2 linked regions of the Homo sapiens genome follow. The protein of the gene in region 1 purifies or fractionates together with the protein of each later gene. This does not show direct contact. Each region holds a gene or a part of one and is shown in the gene's direction. Other genes may lie near its edges.

Evidence for each region.
Region 2: the proteins of ANXA2R (region 1) and CNOT6L purify together in Homo sapiens (affinity purification with mass spectrometry; one large-scale study listed by BioGRID and IntAct). This does not show direct contact.

Annotation. Positions count from the first base shown.
Region 1 is NC_000005.10:43,038,871-43,041,810, reverse strand, and holds ANXA2R (annexin-2 receptor), read left to right. Parts: upstream 1-1,491; 5' UTR 1,492-1,764; coding exon 1,765-2,346; 3' UTR 2,347-2,440; downstream 2,441-2,940. UniProt on the Homo sapiens protein: May act as a receptor for annexin II on marrow stromal cells to induce osteoclast formation.
Region 2 is NC_000004.12:77,739,160-77,743,193, reverse strand, and holds part of CNOT6L (CCR4-NOT transcription complex subunit 6-like), read left to right. Parts: intron 1-874; coding exon of another isoform or gene 875-898; coding exon 899-1,053; intron 1,054-2,990; coding exon of another isoform or gene 2,991-3,086; intron 3,087-4,034. UniProt on the Homo sapiens protein: Has 3'-5' poly(A) exoribonuclease activity for synthetic poly(A) RNA substrate.

The DNA of each region.
Region 1 (2,940 bases):
TGGCCTCGGATTTCTAATCATAACAACCATGGGGTCAGCCTAGCCTCAAGTTTCTTAGTCCTAGCAAGTTCCGGTTTCCTACTGGTAAGACTTGCTTTAGCTGCGCAGGAAATGTTTAACTCCTGTGGAAATCTGGGTACCAGCGAATGCTTTTTTTTTTTTTTTAAAGGTTTAGCGATGACCAGTTTAGCAGTGTTGGGAGCTCTTATACCAAGTTTGGTTTCGCAATATCGAGTCCTGTCTTAGCTATGCTTGTGTGTTTTTAAAACTCCCGTGGAAGTCAGGAAATGCCGGCGATCGCGATGTCTCAGTTTTACCAAGCTCCCTTTGACAATAGCAAGTCCTGCCCATCGAGACTTTTTCCTCTTGTAGACCAAATCGGGATGTACCAGCTACTACGATTTTTTAGACGTAGCTAAACACGTTTAACCGTGGATATTTTTGTTTTTTTTCTCGTAGGAAATTATGACAGGAGCAACCTGCAGGGGTTTAGATCTGACAGAAATATTCTAATGGTAGGCATTGCATCGCTTAGCCATATTTGTAATTTCTTCTTTGTAGGGTTGGTTCTCTGTAACTTTTGCTTACCTTAAAATTATTTTTGTGTCTTGCTCTGAGGACAATGTTACCGATGTGTTTTTCATTTTTACTTGCATTTCAGACTTTCATTATTTTAAATTATGTATTTTTTTTTTCTTCTAATTTTGAGCGTCTCAGATTCGTGCTTCTTGACTTTCATTCTCTCAGGAGCCGGGGAGCCGAGCTCGGTCTTAGCCTCGCTGGTATCAGGTTCCGGGTTCTGTCTGGAGGCTCCGCTTCCTATGCAGAGCTGGCGGTTTTGTATCAGCACGTTTGCCAGTGGCGCCCACTGGGCGTTTTCTCAGTTGCTGCACCCAACGTGACATTTCCCGTTCGCGGGGTCCTTAGGTTCTCAGTGCTGTCACTTTTTCGCTCCTACAACCGCTAGTATCTCCTAGGAACTTCCTGAACCCCGTTTTGCCGTGCAGAACGGTGATTGCACCGAGCCGCTGTTCGCACTAGTAATTGTGTGGTACCATTAGCCGGCGCTTTTTCTGTCACAACCCATTAAAACGGGTTAAAACATATTAAACCTATCAAACACATTGAACGGATTAAAACACATTAAATGCCGCAACACATTTTTCTGGTACAACACATTGAAACAGAGTTGGTTCATTCCTCCAAACAGGTTGTTTAGGTGTGGAAGCACCGCTCTTAGTTCTAAGAGCATGCTGTTTCTCTTTAGCAGCACCCTTTACGGCGCCAAAACGGATATTTGTTTGGCAATACCAGCGCTATCCGCTAGGTGCCGGCGCTTGCTAAGTTCAACGCGCCAGTTTCTCGTTTGCAAGGTGGTTAGGGCAGAGCCCTAGCAGACAGTTTTCCGGTGGCAGCAACGCTCATTTCCCGGAAACGGGTGGTTCTTGGCCCTTGCGCGCTCTTGAATACCTGCGTTCTGTAGCGCTAGTTCTCTTCAAGATTTGCTTAGTGTCATTTCATTTCGGTTTCTTTTCTCGCCATGTTTTTCTGTCGGAATTACGGTTCGTTTTGGTTCTATGTACTCTCTAAAATGTTATCGTTTTTCATTTGTCTACTAATTTTCGTGCATTTGTTACTACTGAGTTTCTTAATATCTGACTGGCCTCCGCCCACGGGCTCTGCAGAGCATAAATACTCAGGCTGATGGTAGTGCAGAGACTCTCCCTCCTTGATCAGCGCAAACGTTGGTCTGAGGCTTGAGGGATGGAGCAACATTTTCTTGGCTGTGTGAAGCGGGCTTGGGATTCCGCAGAGGTGGCGCCAGAGCCCCAGCCTCCACCTATTGTGAGTTCAGAAGATCGTGGGCCGTGGCCTCTTCCTTTGTATCCAGTACTAGGAGAGTACTCACTGGACAGCTGTGATTTGGGACTGCTTTCCAGCCCTTGCTGGCGGCTGCCCGGAGTCTACTGGCAAAACGGACTCTCTCCTGGAGTCCAGAGCACCTTGGAACCAAGTACAGCGAAGCCCACTGAGTTCAGTTGGCCGGGGACACAGAAGCAGCAAGAGGCACCCGTAGAAGAGGTGGGGCAGGCAGAGGAACCCGACAGACTCAGGCTCCAGCAGCTTCCCTGGAGCAGTCCTCTCCATCCCTGGGACAGACAGCAGGACACCGAGGTCTGTGACAGCGGGTGCCTTTTGGAACGCCGCCATCCTCCTGCCCTCCAGCCGTGGCGCCACCTCCCGGGTTTCTCAGACTGCCTGGAGTGGATTCTTCGCGTTGGTTTTGCCGCGTTCTCTGTACTCTGGGCGTGCTGTTCACGGATCTGTGGAGCTAAGCAGCCTTAGATAGCAGCAGAAGGCTTTTTGGATTCTCCTCCTTGAAAAGATTCTCAGTTACCAAACGTCTCCACCTAGAAAATAAAAATACATTAAGATGTGCTTTCATTGCTGGTTGTCAGTTTTTAAATTCTCTTTTTCCCTTATGTTTCTTTCTTGTTTCGCGTCGCTTATTACTTTCAGTTTCCTTGTATTTTAAATATTTGTATTTATTTCATTAAATATTTCATTCGTATCTGTTTTCACTTTGAGAAATCTATTTTACGATTGTAGAATTCTTAGAGTTTTTGGCAAATTTAAAATTTGTTTTTTTCCATTGTATTTTAAAATCTTATTCCTACTATTTTTCTAATTATTGCTTTTTAAATGTATTGTTTGTTTACATTTAATTTTATATCATGTCTTTTACGTTATTATAACGTCTTTTTAATTTTAATTGTTAATTTTATTTTTAACAGCGGTCTTTCTTTTTTTCAGTATATCGATTCATTGTTTTACACTCAGGAATTTTATTCACGATCATAAGACTGAGAGGTTTATCAATCTTTGCTATTTCTCGTGGAAGGACCACGCAATTACTTATATTAATACAACTTCACAGAT
Region 2 (4,034 bases), on another chromosome or scaffold:
AATATAAAGCATGATGGAGGGAAATACCTAATTTCATGTCATAAGATAGTTGTGTTAAAACTTCTGGAGTATTTTTCTTCTATACATTAAGTAAAATATATTTACAGATACATTTTGATTCTTATTTATTGTACTTAATGGATTTTCCATGTTACTAAAATTCTTCAAAACTCATTAATTATATGAACGTATATTGATGTAGCTTTTCCCATACCATTGGACACATTTAGTTGTTTATGGGTTTTTGCTGTCATAAACTCATGCTGTTAGAAACATCTGCATACATAAATTATCTTCATATTTATTTCATTTAGAAAGACCTGTTAAAATATTTTATGAGTCAAAGAATAAAATAGACTAATAATTATTAAATTAATAGAGGCCATTGGATGATTGCGATTTAGGTACTTAAAAATTTCTTAAAGTAGAATTTTTTGTGGATAGATTTTACGTTTCTCACTCTTGGGTATCATTTCTTTCCACCATAGTTCAGAAGGATATGCAAGTTTTTAAATTACCTTTTTATATATAAATTACTATTCCCTATCACAGAATCTATCATATACCCAACTTGCTTTGTTTAGTTGCCAGTCTTGAGGAAGTAAAGTATAATGGAGTGAACTGTAAATTGGGAATCAAGAGACCTTGGGATGTAGTCCTACTCCTGTTACTATCTGTGTGAGCATGAGAAAATCATGTCACCTTTCTGGTTCTTTCATGTTTAAAAAGCTGCCATTGTCAAGTAGCAGCTGCTAGCAATCAGGTAAGATAGTAAGATAATATTTGCTATGTGAATTATTTTTACTAAGTTACATCTTACTCATAATGCTGAACATTTTTATATCTTAATCAGCATTTTCCCTCTGTCATATAGATGATAACTTTTCTTTCATCTCAGGAAGTGGAAACAGAGCAATACTTCACTCTCTTTCTGCCAGCATTGAAGGAGCGTGGATATGATGGATTTTTTTCTCCAAAGTCACGTGCCAAAATCATGTCTGAGCAGGAGAGAAAGCATGTAGATGGTTGTGCAATATTCTTCAAAACAGAAAAGTAAGTTAAGGAAACAAAGCACAATGGTGTACTTTTATTTATTTAAATGCTTACACTTTAAAATTGTCTTTGGTTTTGCCCTATAAAATCAACAGAAAGCTAGAAAACAAGTATTATGCAACTTAAAACTGTTGTTAATGTTTCATTTCTCAGGCTGTGTATTCGAAATAAGGATATTTATTGTATTATTCCTTATGCTTTTATTACCAAATAACACTGAACATTTTAAGAGATACAGACTTGAATGGTCTCATATTTCAGAACATATTTTCATGAAGTAAAGTATTAGTTTTTGTGTAAAAAAAGAAAGTGATACCTTTTAAGGTTGGCCATAAGTGATCTGGGTTTCTTTTCTGTGATTTTTTTTTAATAATTGATTTTTGAGAATCATTCATTTTAAAATCATTTATTCACTAAATGTATACTGAGCATTTGCTTTGTGATAAGTCCTGTGCTAGACACAACAGACACAAAGATAGTCAAGACATAGTTCCTAATCTCACTGAAAGCTCAAATCCAGTAGGAAAAACTAGGCATATAAGACAATTGCAATATCATATGGTGTAATATAAGATAGAGGTCTGCCTGGGTAGATAAGAGAGGCAGGCACAGAGCATATGGAGGTAGAGAGTTAAAAGGGTTGACTGAGACAGGGCAATGGAAAATGAAACGTGACATCTGATAGAGGTTGAATCCCATGGTTAATAGTTTGGATTTCATACGTTAGGAAATCATCTTACAGGATAAGCATATACATGCTTACAGCTGTTTTCCAGTATTTCCCCATTTTACATCTATTTTACCAAAGCCAATCTGTTTTTATTGATCCAAGCATATTACCAGCATGACATGCTATTTTAAGTAAACAAATTCAATGAATTTGAAAGATATTTGGTCCACTTCCCATTTATCTATGCCTACTTTCCTGTCTTTTCCATGAATTTGTAGTAGAGATATTCTTATTTTGGTTAATAATTAGTACAAAGCCTTGTAGTATTTGAGGTCAGAATATACTAAATTCTTCTAATGGTTTGGTAATTTTTTATGCATTTTAGAATAATTCTATTAAAACTACGTATCTCTTAACTACGGGAATATGTTCTGAGAAATGCATCATTAGGTGATTTTGTTGTTGTGGGAACATCATGAAGTGCACTTACACAAACCTAGATGGTACAGCACTATACACCTAGGCTATAAGGTATAGCCTGTTGTTCCCAGGCTAGAAACCTGTACAGCATGTTACTGTAGTAAATAGACAATTGTAATACAATGGCATTTGAGTCTAAACATATCTAGACGTAAAAAAGGTAATGTATTGTGCTGTGATGTTAAGACACCTACATCATCACTGGGTGATAGGAATTTTTCAGCTCCATTATAGTCTTGTGGGACTACCATCGGCATGTAGTCCCTTGTTGACTGAAATCTTGTTATATGGTATATGACCGTACTTCCAGAGTGTTTGCCATCTGTCAGCCTTTTCGAATTGTTTATATTAGTTGTCTTGTTCAAATTTTAAAGCAACTCTTACAGGCAGCTATACAGCTATTTCCTTGTTTTTAAAGATGAGGAAACCAAGGTACAGACAAGTTCAATAACTAGTTCCAGTTACACAGTCTGATTTCATAGTCCATGCTTTTAACTACTGTAATAAACTGAATCTTTAGCCTTCTTGTTTGAGCTTTTGATATCACTAATACCTCTTATAAGATTACCTCATTTAGAAAAATTGCCCTGAATTTGACATTTGTTTTTGTTTTTAGACAGGGTCTCAGAGTCTTACTCTGTCACCCAGGCTGGAGTGCAGTGGCGATCATGGCTCACTGCAGCCTCAACCTCCCCAGGCTCAGGTGATTCTGTCACCTCAGCACCCTGAGTAGCTGAGACTACACGTGCATGCCACCACACCTAACTAATTTTTGTATTTTTTGTAGAGATGGGGTCTTGCTGTGTTGCCCTAGGCTGGTTTTGAACTCCTGGGTCCAAGCAATCCACCCGCCTCAGCCTCCCACAGTGCTGGGATTACAGACGTAAGCCACCGTGCCTGACGATATTTGTTACCTATGTTCATACACAAATCCCCTTGAAACACCATAGCTTAAAAAAAAAATGCACCAGTAAACTTGAGACATCTAACATCAGGCTCTTTTTCTATTTGCTATAGTTTCTTTCAAGATAATATGGAAGATTTTTATTATTACTCTCACAGTTTTGAGAGGAAAAATCTAAAATTCCTTAACAATTTACTAGAAGTAGTTAAGGCTTTGAAATAACAGTTAGAACTGTTATCTGGGTATTTGCAAATTGATTCTTGAATTATTAAAAATGCTGTGAACTAGTTAAGTAATGAGCACATAGGAAGTACTTAGATGTGTCACCTGTTTTTCTTTTCTTCCTCAACTCTTTTTTCCTGAATAGTAACATGGATCTGGCAACAGATTGAATGTGATACATCAGTATATTGTACCTCTTTTCAACTTCTTTCCTGGAATGACAGGACTATATACCTCCTATAGGTAGAACAAAACCACCTTCTGTCCCAGTACCAGATATTTATCCATGTCTTAGCTGACTATTCAGTGCCAACTATTTGGAATTTAAAGTATTATACCCTGCCTTTATTCTTTCTTCAGACTGGAAATATAGGGCAAAAAAAGACTGTGAGTTTTGAAGCCAGGTGCTTCTTCTATTTATTTAGCTATATAATGTTGAAAGACTTAGCATTTCTGGACCTGTTTCTTCATTTGTATATTCTTATCTTGTAAGATCATTTTTGTAGAGGTTACAAAACTAACAAAGATAACTGTGGAAGAGTAGTCAACACTGTACTTACTCTCAGTCTCTTTCTTCTGTAATCAGAGTATCTGATAATTCCTCATCTTCACTGATGACTGTTTAATCATACATGAAAAACTGGTACAGAATACGCAACAATAAATGGAAACTATCATAATTGCCATTTATAGCAAAATACTATA